Homo sapiens: one gene and its partners. The protein of the gene in region 1 purifies or fractionates together with the protein of each later gene. This does not show direct contact. Each region holds a gene or a part of one and is shown in the gene's direction. Other genes may lie near its edges. The genes, in order: MUSK, RBSN and DNAJC13.

Region 1 (7,519 bases):
TTTTGTAATAATACTCTGTTTGAAACACAAATATATTGTACAGTTATACAAAAATAGTTTTTCTTCATATCCTTAAGCTCTTTTCTATCTTAAAATTTTATTTTTATTTTTTACTTTCTAAACTTTTTTTGTTAAACACTAAGACAAAAACACACAATAGCCTTGGCCTACACAGGGTCAGGATCAAAACATCACTGCCTTTCAACAGCTTGTCCTACTGGAAGGTCCTCAGGGGCAATAACACACATGGAGCTGCCATCTCCTATGGTAACAATGTATTCTTCTAGAATACCTGCCTGAGGCTGTTTTACAATCAATTTTTTATTTATTTTTATTTTTTATGTTTTTAAATAAGTACAGGGTATACACAGTAAAATAATAATAAAAATATAGTACATTAAAAAAACCAGCAACATGGTCATTTATTATCATTATCAACTATTATGTACTCTACATAATTGTATGTGCTTTTTTATTCAAAAAGAAAATCATTAAGAACACAGCAATATTAATATTTATTCTTTTTTTTAGAAGAACCTGATTTATTTATTTAATTTTTTTATTATACTTTAAGTTCTGGGATACATGTGCAAAACGTGTAGGTTTGTTACACAGGTATACATGTGCCATGGTGGTTTGCTGTATCCATCAACCCATCATCTACATTAGGCATTTCTCCTAATGCTATCCCTCCCCTAGCCCCCCACCCCTTGACAGGCCCCAGTATGTGATTCTCCCCTCCCTGTGTCCATGTGTTCTCATTGTTAGCTCCCACTTATGAGTGAGAACATGTGGTGTTTGGTTTTCTGTTCCTGTATTAGTTTGCTGAGAATGATGGTTTCCAGCTTCATCCATGTCCCTGCAAAGGATATAAACTCATTGTTTTTTATGGCTGCATAGTATTCCGTAGTGTATATGTGCCACATTTTCTTTATCTAGTCTATCATTGATTGGCATTTGGGTTGGTTCCAAGTCTTTGCCATTGTGAATAGTGCTGAAATAAACATATATGTGCATGTGTCTTTATAGTAGAATGATTTATAGTCCTTTGGGTATATACCCAGTAATGAGATTGCTGGGTCAAATGGTATTTCTGGTTCTAATCCTTGAAGAATTGCCACACTGTCTCCCACAATGGTTGAACTAATTTACACTCCCACAAACAGTGTAAAAGCATTCCTATTTTTCCACATTCTCTCCAGCATCGGTTGCTTCCTGACTTTTTAATGATTGCCACTCTAACAGGCATGAGATGGTATCTCATTGTGGTTTTGATTTGCATTTCTCTAATGACCAATAATGATGAGCTTTATTTCATATGTTTGTTGGCTGCATAAATGTCTTATTTTGAGAAGTGTCTGTTCATATCCTTCGCCCACTTTTTGATGGGGTTGTTTGTTTTTTTCTTGTAAATTTGTTTAAGTTCTTTGTAGATTCTGGATATTAGCCCTTTGTCAGATGGATAGATTGCAAAAATTTTCTCCCACTCTGTAGGTTGCCTGCTCACTCTAATGATAGTTCCTTTTGCTGAGCAGATGGTCTTTAGTTTAATTAGGTCCCATTTGTCAATTTTGACTTTTGTTGCCATTGCTTTTGGGGTTTTAGTCATGAAGTCTTTGCCCATGCCTATGTCCTGAATGGTATTGCCTAGGTTTTCTTCTAGGGTTTTTATGGTTTTAGGTTTTACATTTAAGTATTTAATCCATCTTGAGTTAATTTTTGTATGAGATATAAGGAAGGGGTCCAGTTCCAGTTTTCCGCATATGGCTAGCCAGTTTTCCCAACACCATTTATTAAATAGGGAATCCTTTCCCTACTGCTTGTTTTTGTCAGGTTTGTCAAAGATCAGATGGTTGTAGATGTGTGGCATTATTTCTTAGGCCTCTGTTCTGTTCCATTGGTCTATATATCTGTTTTGGTACCAGTACCATGCTGTTTTGGCAAACCAGGAAGAAGCTGAATCCCTGAATATACCAATAAGAAGTTCTGAAATTGAGGCAGTAATTAATAGCCTACCGAGCAAAAAAAAAAAAAAAAAAAAAAAAATCCAGGACCAGACGGATTCACAGCCGAATTCTACCAGAGGTACAAAGAGGAGCTGGTACCATTCCTTCTGAAACTATTCCAATCAATAGAAAAAGAGGGAATCCTCTCTAACTAATTTTATGAGTCCAGCATCATCCTGATACCAAAACCTGGCAGAGGCACAACCAAAAACAGAAAATTTCAGGCCAATATCCCTGATGAATATTGATGTGAAAATTCTCAATAAAATACTGGCAAACTGAATCCAACAGCACATCAAAAAGCTTACCCACCACGATCAAGTTGGCTTCATCCCTGGGATGCAAGGCTGGTTAAACATATGCAAATCAATAAATGTAATCCATCACATAAACAGAACCAGTGACAAAAACCACATGATTATCTCAATAGATGCAGAAAAGGCTTTCAATAAAATTTAACACCCCTTTATGCTAAAAACTCTCAATAAACTAGGTATTGATGGAACCCATCGAAAAAAAATGAGCTATTTATGACAAACCCACAGCCAATGTCACACTGAATGAGAAAAAGCTGGAAGTATTCCCTTTGAAAACTGGCACGAGACAAGGATGCCCTCTCTCACCACTCGTATTCAACCTACTATTGGAAGTTCTGGCCAGGGCAATCAGGCAAGAGAAAGAAATAAAGCGTATTCAAATAGGAAGAGAGAAAGTCAAATTGTCTCTGTTTGCAGATGACATGATTGTATATTTAGAAAACCCCATCATCTCAGCCCCAAATCTCCTTAAGCTGATAAGCAACTTCAGCAAAGTCCCAGGATACAAAATCAATGTGCAAAGATCACAAGATTCCTATATACCAATAACAGACAAACAGAGAGCCAAATCATGAGTGAACTCCCATTCACAATTGCTACAAAGAGAATAAAATACCTAGGAATCCAACTTACAAGGGATATGAAGGACCTCTTCAAGGAGAACTACAAACCACTGCTCAAGGGAATAAAAGAGGACACAAATAAATGGAAAAACATTCCATGCTCATGATAGGAAGAATCAATATTGTGAAAATGGCTGTACTGCCCAAGGTAATTTATAGATTCAATGCTATCCCCATCAAGCTACCATTGACTTTCTTCACAGAATTAGAAAAAACTACTTTAAATTTCATATGGAACCAAAAAAGAGCCCATATAGCCAAGGCAATCCTAAGCAAAAAGAACAAAGCTGGCGGCATCACACTACCTGACTCTAAAGTTCTATAAATGAACTCACGAGGCCAAAGAATGAAGAAGACACCAACACAAAGGGGAAAAAATCAAAACAATATGGTCATTGCAATGGTAGAGATATGCACAGTATATTATGGAAACCCAGAGAAGACAAACGTAACACAGCTTTGGGAAGATATGGAATTTTTCTCCCAGGAGGAGAGGATGATCAAGCTGAGAGATGTGTGAACTGAGTGGAAAGGAGGGGAGTAGTATTCCAAGAGAAGCAAACAGTATGAGCAATTCATGGAGGTAGGAAAGCTGTATACAGGGAACCATCAGCAGGTTGTTGAATAAAGGAAGCTGAATGAGGCTGGGCACAGTAGCTCACGCCTGCATTCCCAGCACTTTGAGAGGCCGAGGTGGAATCATCATTTGAGGCCAGCAGTTTGAGACCAGCCTGGGTAACATAGCCTGACCACATCTCTCCAAAAAATAAAAATAAATTAGCCTGCTGTAGTGGCAGTGCCTGTAGTCCTAGCTACTCTGAAAGGATCACTTGAGTCCAGGAGGCTGAGGTTGCAGTGAGCTATGATTACCCCATTGCACTCCAGCCTGGGCAACAGAGCAAGACCCTGACTCTGAAAAAAAAAAAAAACAAAAAACAAAAACAGGATCGTAAAAGACAATACTAACATACAACAAAGCATGCAGATTCCAGTAAAGCCTGTCATATTAGGCAGATTAGGCAGGTTTAAATATATTTTTATGTGATGATGAGCCCCTAAAGGCTTTTGAGCAGGAGGGACTATCTGAAAAAAGATATAGAATGGTTAAGACCCAAGACAGAGAGAAGGTACAAGGACTATTTGGTTGATAAAATCTGTAGGAATTGGAATGGGCTGAATGTGGGAGTGGGGGTGGGGTGAGAGATGGGGAGGACTGAAGACTGAATAGACCCAGATTTCTGGTTTGAGTCCGGGAGAGGTGGGGTGCTGAATTCGAAGGTCAGGACACCTATACCTCTGGGAATACAGCGATGGTTGCAAAAGGCATCTGGTATTGTCCTTCTGCCACTGTCTTAAAAGGGATTCTAAAGGGATTTTCTTGCCCTTGTTCCTCCAGCCCTACACTTGCATTACTGGCCTACGTGGATGCTCACCAGCTGGCTGTGTCCATCATTGCAGCCAAGTCTGAGAATTCCTGATTATACTTAGAGCCTGTGGAGCTGCTGACACAAACAGTCATTAGCAGACAACCCTTTTGCAACAAAGTATGCTTTAAAATGTAAACTGTGGAGCCATTTTCCTTGCGTTGTCCAGAAGGAACTTCGTCCTGCGTGAGCCTGGATTAATCATGAGAGAGCTCGTCAACATTCCACTGGTACATATTCTTACTCTGGTTGCCTTCAGCGGAACTGAGAAACTTCCAAAAGGTTGGTTTGAGCAATCGTGTCTTCTTGTTGTCTTGTCATGGTTGTAAAGTGTGTGTATATGAGATATGACCAAGACTGATTTATAGTATGGTGGGCTTGGGTTTTACTTGAAGAAGTAAGGGTGAAATGTATGATGAGGGAGGAAATTATATACATAAGCAATTGGTTGATGGTCTCTCTACCAATATTTTACTCCGAAGTTCTGCAATAAAAGGCTTAGCCACATAGTGCATGCAGAGCTCTGACTTCTAGGGCAAAACATAAGCATGTACACTGCAAGTTATCAAGGTCTATTTTGTTTATGCGAATGTCAAATTTCAGGGTGGTCTAAGTGGATGATGACAACCTTTTCGCATCAGGTTTGCCAGGAATAGAATCAACCCCATTCTCAGACATCCAGAGCATTTGCTTCTGAATAAAAATCACTTTTATTTTCAGTTTTAGCTTTGCCAAACTCTTAATAAATATTTTAGTTGCTAAAAATTGGAAATACAGAAAGACGTACACAATTTGCCTGTGTAACAAACCCGGAAGACAATGGATTTTAAATAACTTTGAGGCTGGAGTCATGATTTGGCTTGGCAAGAGACTGCAAAAGTTTTTTTCAGAGCCTTTGGAATGTACCGGAAATAACACCACCTCAGGGGAAAGGAAAGCAACTTAAGAAACTGACAAACACCTGTTGCAGTAGCAAGAATGTCCAGTGATATAGTTTCTGGCCAGTGTATTATGAAACTGGGACTAGCGTATTTGAAATCAGAAAGACTGGAAAGTCTGTGATTTGCAAAGTGACTAAGGGTATCACTGAAATCTTTTTTTAAAAAGACATGAGAAAGCAGATCGAGTGGTATCAATACAAGAGTTTTCAAATTTAATGTTATACCATAGAGTAAAAAGAGATTTTTGCTTCAGGACATGTTCAAATTAATCATTTTCCCTTTATATTAATCAAAGCACTGAAACAGTTTGTATTGTGTAGATAAATGAAGGTGGTATCTGTATATAGATGCAAAATGTATCTTTAGATTTTCTGGTTCACTAAAAATTCTGGAGCCATAAGGTCAAAGTTCACATGCAAATAAGATGCGGGTTTCTTCACAAACAATCTGATTTCACAGATTTTTTTGTTTCATTTTGTTGCTTCTCTTTTTCCATTTTACTTGAGTATAATGGTATCTTCAAATGTATTTAAACATTTAATTTCTAATGAATACTTTAAGGCATCTACAGATAAAAGAGACTCTAGATCTTTTCAAACAGCTAATAATAGTCAGAAAGACTTAACATTGGCTTCAGATTATTTTAATACTTCCTGATCAAACAACGGATGTCCGGTAAGGCCCCACCTGGATGTTTGAACGTATGGGTTGTCTTAAGTATTATTTGTATATTTCTAAACCACGCAGTTACATAAAAATGATAGGGTTAAATACTAAAATACAGTCTTATAAAGAGCAGGACAATTGATTTTGATGATTCAAATAAGGATTTGTTGTACACACACACAAAACCCCCAAAATCTCTCTATCTGAATAAGTCTTAATTTATATTCTAGAAAGAATTGATTTTCATTTCCAAACTTTACAAATAAAGCCCTTAATTCAAATGCACACTATCTCTATTTTGAAAATATTGAAATATAGTGGCATAGAGATAACAAAGCCAAACACCCTGACTTTTAAATAAACTAACCAGATCATTCACCCAATTTCATTTCTTATAATTTATTTACTACTAGAATTAGGTTTTAAAATCAAAAAATTTAAGCAATTTTTTCTCAGTCTATTGTACTGTAAAATCTAAATTAGTATGAGTTTAACATCACTCTTAGCCAAAATACCATGTCTAGGAGAACAAACATTTATTTACTACATACAGCAGTTCTGAGAATAACTAATATCATGAAAGCATAATCCTTAAAATTTTAAATGTTGAAGGGTGAGGAATACATTGGTAGAAAAGAACCACAATAAAATTTTATTATTTTCATTATTATTATTATTATTTGAGACAGAGTCTCGTTCTGTTGCCAGGCTGCAGTGCAGTGGTGTGATCTCAGCTCACTGCAACCTCCTCCTCCCAGGTTCAAGCTATACTCCTGCCTCAGACTCGCAAATACCTGGGACTACAGGTGCAAGCCACCACACTCGGCTAATTTTTATATTTTTAGTAGAGACAGGGTTTCACCATGTTGGCCAAGATGGTCTCCATCTCTTGACCTCGTGATCTGCCTGCCTCGGCCTCCCAAAGTGCTGGGATTACAGGCATGAGCCACTGCGCCAGCCATTATACTACTGAAACTAATAAAAATGGCCCACCCAAACTATTTCTACTATTTCTAGAAAACTACTGTTTTCCCTATTCTTGGCAGACGGTAATAACAAAAAGAGTTTTTTAGATAATATACTTCTTCCTAAGTCCTTTATCATGAATGCATAAAGGAAATTGTACAATATGTATTAGCTAATAAATTGACATATTTAAAATAACACAAAAGTATTCAGTGGATTATTTTCTGACTTTCTGCACATCATTTTTTGATAAAAATTAATATCCAACTTTGTAGAATTAATTGTTCATAGTTTTCATTTTAGTTTAATTAAGGCTACTAATGCCCAATGATAAGGGGAAGAATCATTGTCTTTCTGAATCATTTCAACTAGTGATATTTTCAATGATGAATTCAGTGCCATAACCCAAGTAGTAGAATTTCACAAACTGTCATTTATGAAAGTAGCCAATGTTCCACTGGATAATTGGCTTAACTACATACATCAATAACATTTAATGCTTTATTAGGGAGTATTAAATGTATGGTGCAATGTTAGATTCTGCAGGAGCATAAGAGTTCATGTAAGCAGCTCTGG
Region 2 (7,112 bases), on another chromosome or scaffold:
GAGTGCCAGGATTACAGGTGTGAGCCACTACGCCTGCCTACATATCCTTTAACCGTCTAATGATAACAGTCATTAATATAATAAAATATTTTCTGTCCATGAAATGGGTAATTATTCCTTTATTTATTTATCATTCCCTTGTGATTTATTCAATTTTCATGTTTATGATCTTGTTCACCTTTCACAAAAGCCTTGTGGAGTAGTGGTCCTTTTTCCCATTTATGGATGAGGAAACTGGAGCTCCAAGAAGGAAAGCGAAATTTACCCAGGCTCATCTACTGTATCTTTTTAGTGCTGTTATAGAAGGTGTCTCTTTGAATAAGGAAAGTCCTACAACTGTGCTGTCCATTCAGTAGCCACCAGTCATGGGCTATTTAAGTTTAAATAAATTTAAATGAAATAAAATTAAAAGTCACTTCCTGTAGCACACACTAACCACATTTTAAGTGTTCTGTGTCCACTTGTGGCTATTTGCTACTGTATTGGAGAATGGAAACATTTTTGTTATTGCAGGAGAAAATTGCTTTAAAAATAATACTATACAGCCGGGCGCAGTGGCTCACGCCTGTAATCCCAGCACTTTGGGAGGTCGAGGCAGCTGAATCACAAGGTCAGGAGTTTGAGACCACCCTGGCCAATATGGTGAAACCCCGTCTCTACTAAAAATACAAAAAAATTAGCCAGGTGTGGTGGCACATGCCTGTAATTCCAGCTACTCGGGAGGCTGAGGCAGGAGAATTGCTTGAATCCAGGAGGCAGAGGTTACAGTGAGCCGAGATTGCACCACTGCACTCCAGCCTGGGTGACAGAGCGAGACTCTGTCTCAAAAAAAAAAAATAATAATAATACTATACATATGTAATTATGAGATACATATGAAAGCCAATCCAAAACATGAAGGAGAAATTTTGGACACATGAATTCTTATTAGCTTTGTTTCATGATTGCCCATGTGAGATTACTGGGGTGATTTTCTGATTAAGTTGCCAGTTGCAGCAACTGAAGACAGTCACAAATTGTAGAAGGTCAAGTGAATGGCAAATTTTAGAAGTTAATATTTATTTATGATAGCTTGTTTGTGATACCTTGTTTCATGATTGCCAATGTGAGATTACTAGGGTGATTTTCTGATTAAGTTGCCAGTTGCAGTAACTGAAATCACAAATTGTAGGTCAAATGAATGGCAAATTTTAGCAGTTAATATTTATGGTCACCCCTAAGAATTCTAAATTAAAGTTTAATTAGATGTTAGAGTATGATTAGGGAAGAAAAGACATGTGGATGGTTAAGAGTATAGCATGTGTGGCCAGGTGCGGTGGCTCACCTGTAAACCCAGCACTTTGGGAGGCCAAGGCAGGTAGATCACATGAGGCCAGGAATTTGAGACCAGTTTGGCCAATGTGGTGAGACCCTGTCTCTACTAAAAATACAAAAATTAGCCTGGCATGGTGGCACATGTGTGTAATCCAAGTTACTTGGGAGGCTGAGGCATGGGAATTGCTTGAACCTGGGAGGTGGAGATTGCAGTGAGCCTGGAGATTTCGCCACTGCATTCCAGTCTGGGCGACAGAGCGAGACTCTGTCTCAAAAATAAATAAAGAGTATAGCATGTGGAGATGCTGATCGAAGGATACAAAATTTCAGCCGGGAGGAATAAGTCAAGAGATCTGTTGTATAAGGTGGTGATTTATAGTTTTTTGTTTGTTTGTTTTTCTGAGACAGCCTTCCTCTGTCACCCAGGCTCAAGTGTGCTGCTGTGATCTTGGCTCACTGCAACCTTTGCCTCTGGGTTCAATTCTTGTGCCTCAGCCACCTGAGTAGCTGGGACCACAGGCGTGCACCACCATGCCCAGCTAATTTTTGTATTTTTAGTAGAGACAGGGTTTCACCATGTTGGTCAGACTGGTCTTGAACTCCTGGCCTCAAGTGATCCATGCTCCTCAGCCTCCCAAAGTGCTGGGATTACAGGCATGAGCCACCGCACCTGGCCTGATTATAGTTAATAAAAATATCTCGTATTCTTGAAAATCAGTGAGAGTAGACTTTGTATTGTCACCACAAAAAGTGGTAAGTATATGAAGTAATGCATATGGTAATTAGCTTGTTTAGCCATTTCCCAGTGTATAAATATTTCAAAACATCATGTTGTACACGGTGAATATATGCAATTTTTATTTGGCAATTAAAAAATTTTTTAAAAGCATGGCATGTGACAAATTCTGTTACATTATAGTCTATAAATGAATAGATGATCATTGGGAAGAGGACATGCACTGAGTGCCGGGAGGGTTGAGGACAATATGTTTCTGGAACAGGTGAGACTGAGCAGGGGATATTTCAGGTTACTCAGACAGTAAGCTATTTGTGTTGCAGACATTTGTCCTGGGTTTTGGCTGCTGGACTGAGGAAGGTATCAGCTTAACTATCTCCCACAAGGGAATCTACCAGCATTTACATTTTTTTGGCCATTTTGAGAATTGTCCTTATCCTGAGGAAAAACCATATTGTATCAAATTTATAAAGTATAAAACAATAAGATAATTCAAAAATGTTTAAATCACCCATAATGTTCCCACCCTGTTTATTTAACATTGGCATGAGAGTCAGTTAAGACTTTACAAATTTTAACTTATTTAATCATCGTTAACAACTCTGTGAAGTAGATACCATTATTATTCCATTTGATAGTTGAGTACTCTTAGAGTTACAGAGATGTTAAGTAATGTGTCCAAGGTTACACAGTGTGTGGCAGAATTGAAACTTGAGCACAGGCTGACTCCAGAGTCCATGCTCTTATCTGCTCTACTCTCAGGTCTCTCATATGGTACTTGGTGGCCTCCAAAGGCGGTTAACAATTTAGCAGATTTTCTTCCATTTGCTTTCCTGGTTTTTGAATTTTTGGTAAGGCTCTAAAATCCTAGAGTTTTTACTTGCTTTTGAAATATATTTTTTTTTCTTTCTGAAGTTGGTCTCACTCTGTCACCCAGGCTGGAGTACAGTGGTGGGATCATAGCTCACTGAAGCCTCCAGCTCCTGAGCTCAAGCCATCTTCCCGCCTTGGCCTCCCAAGGAGCTGGGATTATAGGCGTACATACCCATGCCTGACTATTTTTTTTTTTTTTTTTTTTTTTGGAGAGAGACGGGGTCTCGCTATGTTGACCAACCTGCTTTTGAAATTCACTGGGATAAGAGGCAAGGTAGAGACTAGGCTCCCTCAGAGAAACTATAAGTCATTTGTCTCCCTACCTTCCTTCCCTCTAGGTGCTGTGAGAAGCCATCTTTCCGACTTCAAAAAACACCGAGCTGCTAGAATTGACCACTATGTTGTGGAAGTCAATAAACTAATAATCAGGTTAGAGAAGGTAAATTTTGTTGTCTTAAAACATTTTTTTCTACAAATACACATTTTCTGGGGAAAAATAATCACATTTCTATAGCCTGTGTTGTATATATCATATACATCTGATGGTGGCAGAGAAACACCTTCTCTAGAGAGGTGCAAAGGACATGGTGGACAGTTCTAGCCTGGGCCAGCATTCCTTAAGAGAATGGCCCAGGTTGACAAACTTGCCACATGCTTAGCTTCCCTTTTCCCACCTATGAATCCCACTCAGGTGCTGGAAAACCTTTCTTCCTTCAGATTCTTCTTTTGGGTGTCCCAGGCACAATCATCCAGTGAGGTGTAGTGTGTGATGGCAAACAAAGAAGTGGTCACCAGGTCTCACGGGTGTATTTTCATCCTAGTTGTGCTTGTTGTGTGTAACCTGGATTGTGTGCTGGGCATAGTAGCAAGCACAAGTACAGTTCTTTATGTGTACTTTGTAAGGCAGAAATATGTGGCCAGTTTTAGGGTCCAGGAGCACCGTGGAGAATGGAGAGTTTTCTGTTGCTTTCAGTCGTTGCCCTTACCCATCCTTGCCTACCCCTGGTTATTGCTAAAATGGGTAACTGACAATAAAGAGATTAGAAGTGGGTTATAGGAAGCGAGGTGGGTTCTAGATGCAAAACTAATACCCTGTCCCATGTGAAATTGTTTTTGTGATTTTGTGGCGTTGGGGATGACAGATGAGACTTGAGGAATGCAAATGTGCTAATTTCCCACTTGATGTATTGGAAAGTGTGGAGCATGTATACATCACCTGGTTAATTTCATTTGGCACTATTTTCTTCCGGTCAGCTCACTGCATTTGACAGAACAAATACTGAGTCTGCAAAGATTCGAGGTAACTTTAAAACTTTGCTCACATTCATCTTATTATCTTTTTTTCCCTGACCAAAGCTCTCTTTAAAATGGCCTGCTTTCTTGTTGGTTTGCTCTTCCCAAAGCAATAGAAAAGTCTGTGGTGCCTTGGGTCAACGACCAGGATGTCCCTTTCTGTCCAGACTGTGGGAATAAGTTCAGCATCCGGAACCGCCGCCACCACTGCCGCCTCTGCGGGTCTATTATGTGCAAGAAGTGTATGGAGCTCATCAGCCTTCCCTTGGCAAGTAGGTGACTTGGAGGTGGGGCCCTGGACCCTCATCTTCTTTTGGGCCTAGCTTATTTGCTAATTACCACTGGGATCGTGGAACCTTTTTGTTAAATTAATGGCTCATGGGAATCTTCATTCATTGAGTTGCTGTTTCTGTGAAACCCACTACAGACTAGGTACTATGCTAGGGGCCAGGGATACAGTGGTCTATAACAGGGATTGGCAAACTTTGTAAAGGATCAGATAGTAAATACATTTAGGCTTTGTGGGCCACATATGGTTGCTGTGACATTTCTTCTTTCTTTAAACAACCTTTTAAAAATGTGAACACTAGACTGGGCACAGTGGCTCATGCCTGTAATCACAGCACTTTGAGAGGCCAAGGCAGGCGGATCACTTGAGGTCAGGAGTTTGAGACCAGCGTGGCCAACATGTTGAAACCCTGTCTCTATAAAAATACAAAAATTAGCCTGGCGTGGTGGCATGTGCCTGTAGTCCTAGCTACTCAGGAGGCTGAGGCAGGAGAATTGCTTGAACCTGGGAGGTGAAGGCTGCAGTGAGCTGAGATTGAGCCACTGCACTTCAGCCTGGGTGACCGAGCGAGACTCCCATCTCAAAAAAATAAATAAATAAAATAAAATAGCAATGTGAAAATTATACTTAGTTTGAGAGCCATATAGAAACAGCCTGGAGGCTGGACTTGGCTCACAGGTCATTTTTTGCCCATTTCTGGCCTATAAGCCTATAAGGCATTGTCCATTCTTCCAAGGAGTCTAGCATCTATCAGGGGATATAAACTCACAAATAAATAATTGCTTTCTAAAGAGAGATGTACAATGAAAGAGACTGTCAGGAACTCAGGAGAGGCTGACCAACTCTTTGTCTGCTCTGCTTGGAAGTGGCAAGTGTGACTTTGAGAAGAGGGTCTTGAATATAAGCAGTGGGCTAGTCCCTTCCTGTGGGATAAGTCACAGACAACTCACTGCCATATAGAAAAGACTAATATCATAATATGAGAGATGCTGAGTGCTGTGGGCTCAGGGACAGTGAGAGCATGCATGCTTAGGGCTGGGAGGTGATGTTCAAGAAGAGCCTTAAAAGATGAGTAGGATTGCAAAAGAGATGGAGAAAGAGGACATTTTAGGTAGAGTGAAGAGTAGGAGCAAAGGCATGGAATTCTGGAAAGCCCAGGGTAGGTTAATAGATGAGCAAATAGAATAGTTGGGGGTGTGTGGAGGACAAAGTTTAGGTGGAACCCGATCCTCCAGGACTTTGCAACCAAGCTGAGTAGAAGTTGCTGAAGATGATCTCATTGGCTTCTGGGAAGTTTGGGGTAAATTTGCAACACTAGAGAGTTCTGCTGACTGTGCACACTGTTGGCCATGGGGTGTCTGGATAATGTGGGGACAAAAACAGATGCTTCTTCTTTCCAACTCTCACATATACCAGGTCACTGTACCTTGATACTTTCTCCCTGAGACCAACTCCCTGTCTCACATGAGATTTTATAAGCTGCCTTTTTGGGACACTATTCACCCTTCTTCTCTTGAGCTCTTTAGCCAGCATTTACTGGGCAGCTGCTGTGGGGTGGCCCTGCTGGATATGTTAAGTGTACAAGTGTGAGTAAGACACAGTTCGTACCCACAAAGAGTCATAGGTTCCTAGGGCAGCTCTGGGGTGTACATGCAACTGTACACAGGGAGAAGAGTGGAAAGTGCTCCAAAATGGGCAATGTGGTGGGAACTGATGGGAAGGATGGATAGTTTTTGCCTCAGGGAATTGGAAAAGGCTTTCCTGGAGGACCTGCCATTCAGAGAGGGTAGGAGCCAGATGTTTGGGAATAGGGAGAAGGCTGTGGAGGAAAGTCTCCTGGGAGAATGTTTGTTGTGTTGGAGGCACAGGGCAAATGCAGGAGAGTGGCAGGTGGAAAGGGAAGGCTGTTTGGATTTGGAGGGGCAGCAGTGGAGTCCTTTCTCACCAGAGTCTGACACCAGGAAGGCAGAGGGGCAGTACGTGCCCACAGCTGGAGCCTGATCTTATTACTCTCCAAATCAAACACCTGTGGACTGACACCTTGAGGTCGTGGGTATGGTAATTGGATGCTGTGGGGGTCATTGCTGCCTGTTGGTGTTGTGGTTACAGACAAGCTCACCAGTGCCAGCAAGGAGTCCCTGAGCACCCACACCAGCCCCAGCCAGTCACCCAACAGTGTCCATGGCTCCCGCCGAGGCAGCATCAGCAGCATGAGCAGTGTCAGCTCGGTCCTGGATGAGAAGGACGATGACCGGATCCGCTGCTGTACACACTGCAAGGACACGCTGCTCAAGAGAGAGCAGCAGATTGATGAGAAGGAGCACACACCTGACATCGTGAAGCTCTACGAGGTGATTCGCGCTGTCTGGTCTTGGGTCTAATTTCTTAGGCAGATTTGGCTGTTTGTTATGTACACTCCTGCAGATTCTGGAGAATGCTTTGGGAAGTTGTTCGTTTGAATTATTTGTAGTTCCTGTTAAAGGCCCATGTTATGATTTCCCAGCTAGGGCCCTGTGTGAGTCAGAGTCATCCTGGGTGTGTTGCAACAAACTCGTTTCAAGTGGCCTTCCTTGGCCACTTGAAAGCAGGTGGGTGGAAGCTTTGGTG
Region 3 (7,112 bases), on another chromosome or scaffold:
ATGGTATGTTGGGAGAGAAGGAAGAGGACTTTCAGGATTTGAGATAAGCATGGAGAGTGTTGGGTAACTAAAGACAAGAGATGGTGTTGCAGTTTAAGTATTGGAGGGGACAACCTGAGGATCTAGCAGTTGGATTATTAAAGAGAGCAGTGATTAGTTGATTTACTTTTACATGAGTTTAACAGAATACGTTTATAATACATTTTAGATATATGGCTTTTACTAATCAGAATGAGTTTGGAAACCTTTTTCAAAACCCTTGGTTGTCTTTTAATGCTGATAACTAAATTATTAGCCACAAGATACAGTTATGGCCCATCCTGGTTTCTCTGTTATCAAGGTCATCTTTAACTTTTCCCAAGAGGGGTTTATACCCAAGAAGCTCTGAGGTGGAGGTCCTGATCTGACAGGACTTAGTTATTCACTGTTCTTTCTTATTACGTATGTGTCACTTTTTTTTTTTTTAAAGGAAAATTAGGACCTGTTCCAGGGGGCCTTTTTTTTAAAAGCCAGTTTAGAAATGAGTTTTAAGGCAGATTATTGGTCAGCCTCAAAAGTCAAAAAGATTTATGCTGATTTCAATTGGAATTATAGAGATACTTTTAAAGTCACAGCCAATTAATTTGCATCTCTTTGCCTAATAGGTTAGATTGAAAAAAGAAGATGGAAAGAACAGAGTAATTAGGCATGTAGGTTTACTAGCTTTCACTTTTAAATTTGGTTATTAAAACATGGAATTAACTAAATGTAGTTTAAAAGTTAACTTTCTGTTTTGTACTTCTAGTAAGAAATTGTATTATTTTCAAATTTAAGAAAATACTGGTAAAACTTTAAGATAACTGGTAAAATAGATACCAGTTATCTTTAAGATAACTGGTAAAATAGATACTGGTAAAATAGATAAACAAGGGCACTTGTTATCCAGAAAACTTAATATAAAATATTCAGTGTCATGTAAATGTCTTCTCAGTCTTTTTTCTTTATAAAGATGTGCATATAATTGATATTAATAGAATTTCTGGTGCATTTGCTGTACCTTGCGTTCTGTGATGAGGTGAAAAGTTACAAAGATCAGCATAGAAAGTAGGTATTCTGCAAAGGATCAAAACTATACACCAAGTGCAGTTAATTTACCAGAAAATGTTATTTTTCTAGTGGAAACATTTTAGAAAAATCAACCAAGTTTACTAGAAAGGAAGGATCCAAGGGATTTTATAGTAGGTTTAATTTCTTTTTTTATCAACTGGCATTAGGAGGCATTTAAGATGTTAAGATAAAATATTTTATCTTTTTTTTTACGTTTTATTTTATTTTATTTTTATTTTTTTTGAGACGGAGGCTTGCCCTGTCGCCCAGGCTGGAGTGCAGTGGTGCCATCTCCACTCACTGCAAGCTCCACCTCCCGGGTTCACACCTTTCTCCTGCCTCAGCCTCCCGAGTAGCTGGGACTACAGGTGCCTGCCACCACACCCGGCTAACTTTTTTGTGTTTTTAGTAGAGAAAGGGTTTCACTGTGTTAGCCAGGATGGTCTCAATCTCCTGACCTCGTGATCCACCCACCTTGGCCTCCCAAAGTGCTGGGATTACAGGCATGAGCCACCATGCCTGGCCCCATTTTTATTTTTTTAAGGCAACATATTCTTGAACATGGTATCAAAATTGAAACCACAACATAATCAATTTTGTTTTGTTTTTCTAACACTAACCATTGGTTATTTCAGATTTACAGCCTTATAAATATGCAGGATACCCCATGCTTATTCGGACTATAACAATGGAAACTTCAGATGACCTCCTTTTCTCAAAAGAATCACCATTGTTGCCTGCGGCTACAGAGCTAGCTTTCCATACTGTCAACTGTTCAGCCCTCAATGCTGAAGAGCTCAGAAGAGAGAATGGACTAGAGGTAATACGGAGTGACCTTTGTGCTTTTTAAGCCAGTTTACACACATTATATGACTCTTGGCAGTGAAGAATTCAGCAAGTACAAATGCAGATTCTTTAATTTATTTCAGCAGATAACACAATATTTTCCATATTCTTATACCAAATTAAAGGTAGAAATGGAGCTTTATTTCACAATGTGAGTTGGAAAGTATTGGGTTCAAAACCGATAATGGTAATATTGTTTACAAAGTAGCTTATTAGAAATGCTTAAAAGGAAACTTTTAGGAGTCCTTTGTTTACTATTTATTAACAAATGTTGATCAAACATTTATGTATCAAATATTTAACATTAAAGGGTTATTTATATTTTATTACTGCTAGAAAAGGCCTTTCAGACTTGAAGTCAAAATGGAGAGTTAATAGCTGACTTCTTCCTCTGCAGGTGTTACAAGAGGCATTTAGTCGCTGTGTGGCTGTCTTGACTCGTGCTAGTAAACCAAGTGACATGTCAGTACAGGTGAGGCTAAAACCTGTGGTTCCAAGAAAATTGCACTAGTTCAATGGTTCAGACTTTAACATATCTGAGAATCAACTGGAGGGCTCATTAAACTGTAGGTTGCTGAGCTCCACCCCACCCCAAGTTTCTGATTCAGTGAGTCTGGGGTGGTGGCCTGAGAGTATGTTTTTATAACAAGTTTCCAAGTGTCATTGATGCTGCTGGTCTGTGTATCACACTGTAAGAAACTGTACTAAAGCACTTGTGATCTGTTGGCTTACGTTTTCTTTCTTAGAGAATAGTTTATTGAACCCATATGTTTCCATTACCCAGCTTAATGCCATTCTTGTTTCACATATCTTCCATCCCTCACTCTCCTATCTCTAGTATTTTAATTGGCTTAACATTTAAGGTTGTAAGATAGGAAATTCATCAGGAGTTCATTAAGAGCTTTGTAGAGCGTGTCTTTCTATTTGACCTTTTGCTTATGCCAGCAAAATTCAGAATATAAAACGAGTACTGGCTGTTGAGTTCCATCCTCTATTTTGAAGTCCGTTGTGTAAACAGAATTGTGATATTCTGCTATGTTAATAAACTATACAAAATTACCTTAATCCAGAGGCCAGCAAACTTCTAAAATAAAGGTCCAGGGAGTAAATATATGAGTCTTTCAGGCTTCATACAGTCTCTGTTACATTTTCTTTTGTGACTTTTTTACAGCCCTTTAAAAATCTAAAAACCATTCTTAGCTCTTTGGCAGTACAAAGACCATGGTCAGTTTGGCCCATGGGTTGTAGTAGCTGTGGTTTGCCAACTACCCCAGCATTTATAGGAAATCTTAATGAGAAAGACTAGTGATCTAGTAAAGACATTCTGTTTAATTTTGGAACATTGTATATACCATTAAGCATTATTCACAAATTTCTGCTGGTTTGATTTCTATGTGTTAAATAAGGAATGCCTATGTGACTCTACTGGTTTTTTTGCTCTGTTGTGTTGTCTGCAGGTGTGTGGATACATAAGTAAATGCTACAGTGTGGCTGCTCAGTTTGAGGAATGCCGAGAGAAGATCACGGAAATGCCTAGCATCATCAAGGATCTCTGTCGGGTACTATATTTTGGCAAGGTAGGGTTAATCTTTAATGCTTTCTAGATACAGACAGCAAAGTGTCTTTTTGTCAACTAGCCAGTTCCTAATGTATAAGCACATTGTTTTCCCAAAGTTATTTGTAAGTAAAATTATTTGGATTTCTAAAAGCATTTTTCACAGAAGCCTTGCTGTAAATGGAGGCTTTGCTTCTAGGCTGGCCTACAAAGAAAAAGACTAAAGTGATACATCTAAAGGGAAGTGGGTTCCATCTGAACATTAGAATGAGTGGCAGGGAGAAAAGAGAAGCCTGTAATAAATAAGTCTTTTAAAAGCAAAAGGCCAGCCCGGTGTGGTGGCTCACGTCTGTAATCCTAGCACTTTGGCAAGCCGAGGTTGGCAGATCACTTGAGGTCAGGAGTTCAAGACCAGCCTGGCCAACACTGCAGAACCCTGTCTACAAAAAAATACAAAAATTAGCTGGGTATGATGGCATGCGCCTGTAATCCTAGGTATTCGGGAGGCTGAGTATTTGGCTGAAGAACAAGCAACTCCAGAAAATTCAACCATAAGGAAAAGTTTAGCTGGCATGCTGACACCCTATGTTTCTGTGGCTAGTGTGACTGAGATATATGCTTCAGAGGTAGCCTGTGCCACTACACTCCAGACTGGGCAAGAGAGTGAGACTCTGTCTCAAAAAAAAAAAAGAAAAAAAAACAGGGCCATGTAAAACCTGAAAACTAGAGAGTTCGGCACTGCTTGGTGGGAAAGGCTTTAGAGATCTGAGAACTTACTATTTCCTCCCAATCCAGACCTGCTGAGGAAGGTTGACTGTGGGTAGATGAGATAGATGACTGGGAGGGAGAGAGAAATGTCTTAAATAACTGGGCAGAGTGAGAATTGTCTTGAATAAAACAGGATCGAGATGCTGATCTAGTACTAAAGTATCAAGAAGTGAGGGAATTGATGAAAATATCTCCTCTACTATATCTACTTAATGTCCTTAGAAGTATTTGATTACAGAATAAAAAACTGACATAAATAAATCTTTTAACAACTGCACAAAATATGTCGTTACATTTAAGATCACTAGCGTGTAAGTTGCTATTGATGCCATGTCACTATTTTTAAAAATTAAAAATACAAGAAGTGAAACAGGAAACTATTCCCAAGTCTTCTGACATTAGCCTTAAAGGTAGTAATTCTGGTATCTCGTCATGAGGTCACTTTTAATTTTAGGCTTTAAAGGATGTAGGATTCAGATTTAAATTGGAATTGAAAATGTAAGAAGAGGTAAACATTTTACAAAATAACGTGGTTGGCTTGACATACATGCACAACCAGTTCCTCTTGGGAGCTTTTTTTTTTTTTTTTAACTCTGTAACAACTAATGCTCTCATTTTTATTCTCTCAGAGTATTCCCCGCGTAGCTGCTCTTGGGGTAGAATGTGTCAGTTCTTTTGCTGTGGATTTCTGGCTACAGACACACCTATTTCAGGCTGGAATTTTGTGGTATCTCCTTGGTTTTCTGTTTAATTATGACTACACACTAGAAGAGAGTGGCATTCAGAAAAGTGAAGAAACAAACCAGCAGGTAACTTTAACATTGCTTTAATATTGAATTTGAACCCAAACCTTAGGTTGGTGTTAAACTAATCCAAACCAAAGCTGCTATCCAGAGTCCCCAGAGATAAATTGTTTTTCAGGAAAATTAGGTTTTTTGCTTTTTAAACCTAATCACTTACTTACAAAACTTTTAGTTGTAATTGCTTATGCTTAAAGGATTCCAGGCAAGGGAATTTGCAATAGCATATACTGGACATAATTTAATAATTTCTTAATTACTCAGAGTCAACTTTATGATGGCAAAATTATGGTTGTGTAACACAGGACAATATAATGTTACCATCAGGCAGTTGAGGCTAGCTCCCCTAAACACTTGAGTACTTGTCTGATTTTTATAGATATTTTTCTGTCTCTTCTATGTGCTCTCATTTATTGCTCATATTGTAAATGTGTGCTTCTAGCAGGCAGGGCTGCCTACCTATCCCCTACTCCCCACATTACCACCAAATGTGCTTCTTCCAGTTGTCTGTGAGATATACTGCATTGGGTATAAGTTAGTACATAGATTCTCCTGGTCCTTCTTATAAATAAAAAACAAGCCCCAACACATAAACTTTCTGATGTTTACCTCAGTGGTAGGTACTCTTGTACCCTTTTGTTGGTTGACTTTTTACTCCTTAAATATGTTCCATATAGTGTGATTCTGTAAAATTATAGTATTACCTATGTAAGATAACAGATCTACTTTAACAACTTAATTTTTTTTATAACAGGAGGTAGCAAACAGCCTTGCCAAACTGAGTGTCCATGCTCTGAGTCGCCTTGGAGGGTATTTGGCTGAAGAACAAGCAACTCCAGAAAATCCAACCATAAGGAAAAGCTTAGCTGGCATGCTGACACCCTATGTTGCTAGAAAACTTGCTGTGGCTAGTGTGACTGAGGTATGTGCTTCACAGGTAGCCTGGGTTTTAATCAATAGTGCAAGATCCTTTAAGCAGTAAAGTAGTACAATAATATTGATCTAGGGAACCTAAAAATTAAGAACGTTCACATGTTTGTTCTCTCAAGCAAGAAATTCACTTTATAATGGATTGATGCTAATGATGTCAGTTCTACAAGTCCAGTTTTTGCAAGGGCAAATTAACTTTGTTTCTCAGCTGTGGAGCCTATCATAATTCTTACCAACCTTGAGTCACAAAGGGACAGGACGAGAGAGTGAAGTTGGAATGGTGTTTCACAATGGCAGACTACTGGGAGACAGGAGACCCAGAGTCTATTTCAAGCTATTTATTGTAAGCCATAGCTTATTCAGACACAGGGTTAAAATCCTGAAAGTAAATACATACATGCACATATACATGTATATGTATCTATGTACATACATAGATGCATTACAAAAATCAGTATGACATGATAGATCTCCCAACCTCTTTAACTTCTTTTGCAAGGATTATTGAGAAATAATCTGAGAATGTAGCACTAAAGAATTTGATAAACTATAGAAATCAGTTAAACAGGTTACTATTATCCTTTAATTATAAAAAAAAAAAGAGTACTAAAAGACATTAAAATAAATGAAGACACTAGATCCTATTTTTGGTATAACAAAATAAATGGATTGATAGATTTGTACCCATATGTTAACTGTAATTATTCCTGAATGGCATAATTATAGGCAGTTTTTCTTTTGTTTTCGCTAAGGATGAACTGTGACTTTTGTAAGTGAAAAAATCCTCAGGTTTCCAAAGTATTTTTACAACTTTTAAACAGGTTATTTGTTTTTAATCCAATGTGATTGAGTCCAATTTTCAGTGCTTGCCATGCTTTTCAGTTCCCATGTGTGAAAGGCAGGAGCTCTAGATGCTACTGGTTTTTTTTTTTTTTTTTAATTTTGTTTTTGTTTTTACTATTTTTCCTAAAACACTAGACGACCAGGGACCACTCCTGATGTTAGTTATTTTCCTGGACTTTTTGCTCACCAATGTGATACATTTTGCTGACTGAAAGCATTCTCTTCAGAAATGCCAACAAGTTTGGGATTAACCTTTATAGCCACCCCCACTAAAAATTTTTTAT

What was found.
Region 2: the proteins of MUSK (region 1) and RBSN purify together in Homo sapiens (affinity purification with mass spectrometry; 2 studies listed by BioGRID and IntAct, with this or other methods). This does not show direct contact.
Region 3: the proteins of MUSK (region 1) and DNAJC13 purify together in Homo sapiens (affinity purification with mass spectrometry; 2 studies listed by BioGRID and IntAct, with this or other methods). This does not show direct contact.

What each region holds. Positions count from the first base shown.
Region 1 is NC_000009.12:110,664,332-110,671,850, forward strand, and holds the start of MUSK (muscle, skeletal receptor tyrosine-protein kinase isoform 1 precursor), read left to right. Parts: upstream 1-4,459; 5' UTR 4,460-4,573; coding exon 4,574-4,652; intron 4,653-7,519.
Region 2 is NC_000003.12:15,082,111-15,089,222, reverse strand, and holds part of RBSN (rabenosyn-5), read left to right. Parts: intron 1-3,261; coding exon 3,262-3,362; intron 3,363-4,177; coding exon 4,178-4,223; intron 4,224-4,326; coding exon 4,327-4,488; intron 4,489-6,614; coding exon 6,615-6,856; intron 6,857-7,112. UniProt on the Homo sapiens protein: Rab4/Rab5 effector protein acting in early endocytic membrane fusion and membrane trafficking of recycling endosomes. Required for endosome fusion either homotypically or with clathrin coated vesicles.
Region 3 is NC_000003.12:132,497,405-132,504,516, forward strand, and holds part of DNAJC13 (dnaJ homolog subfamily C member 13), read left to right. Parts: intron 1-1,721; coding exon 1,722-1,906; intron 1,907-2,329; coding exon 2,330-2,404; intron 2,405-3,389; coding exon 3,390-3,509; intron 3,510-4,884; coding exon 4,885-5,064; intron 5,065-5,809; coding exon 5,810-5,977; intron 5,978-7,112.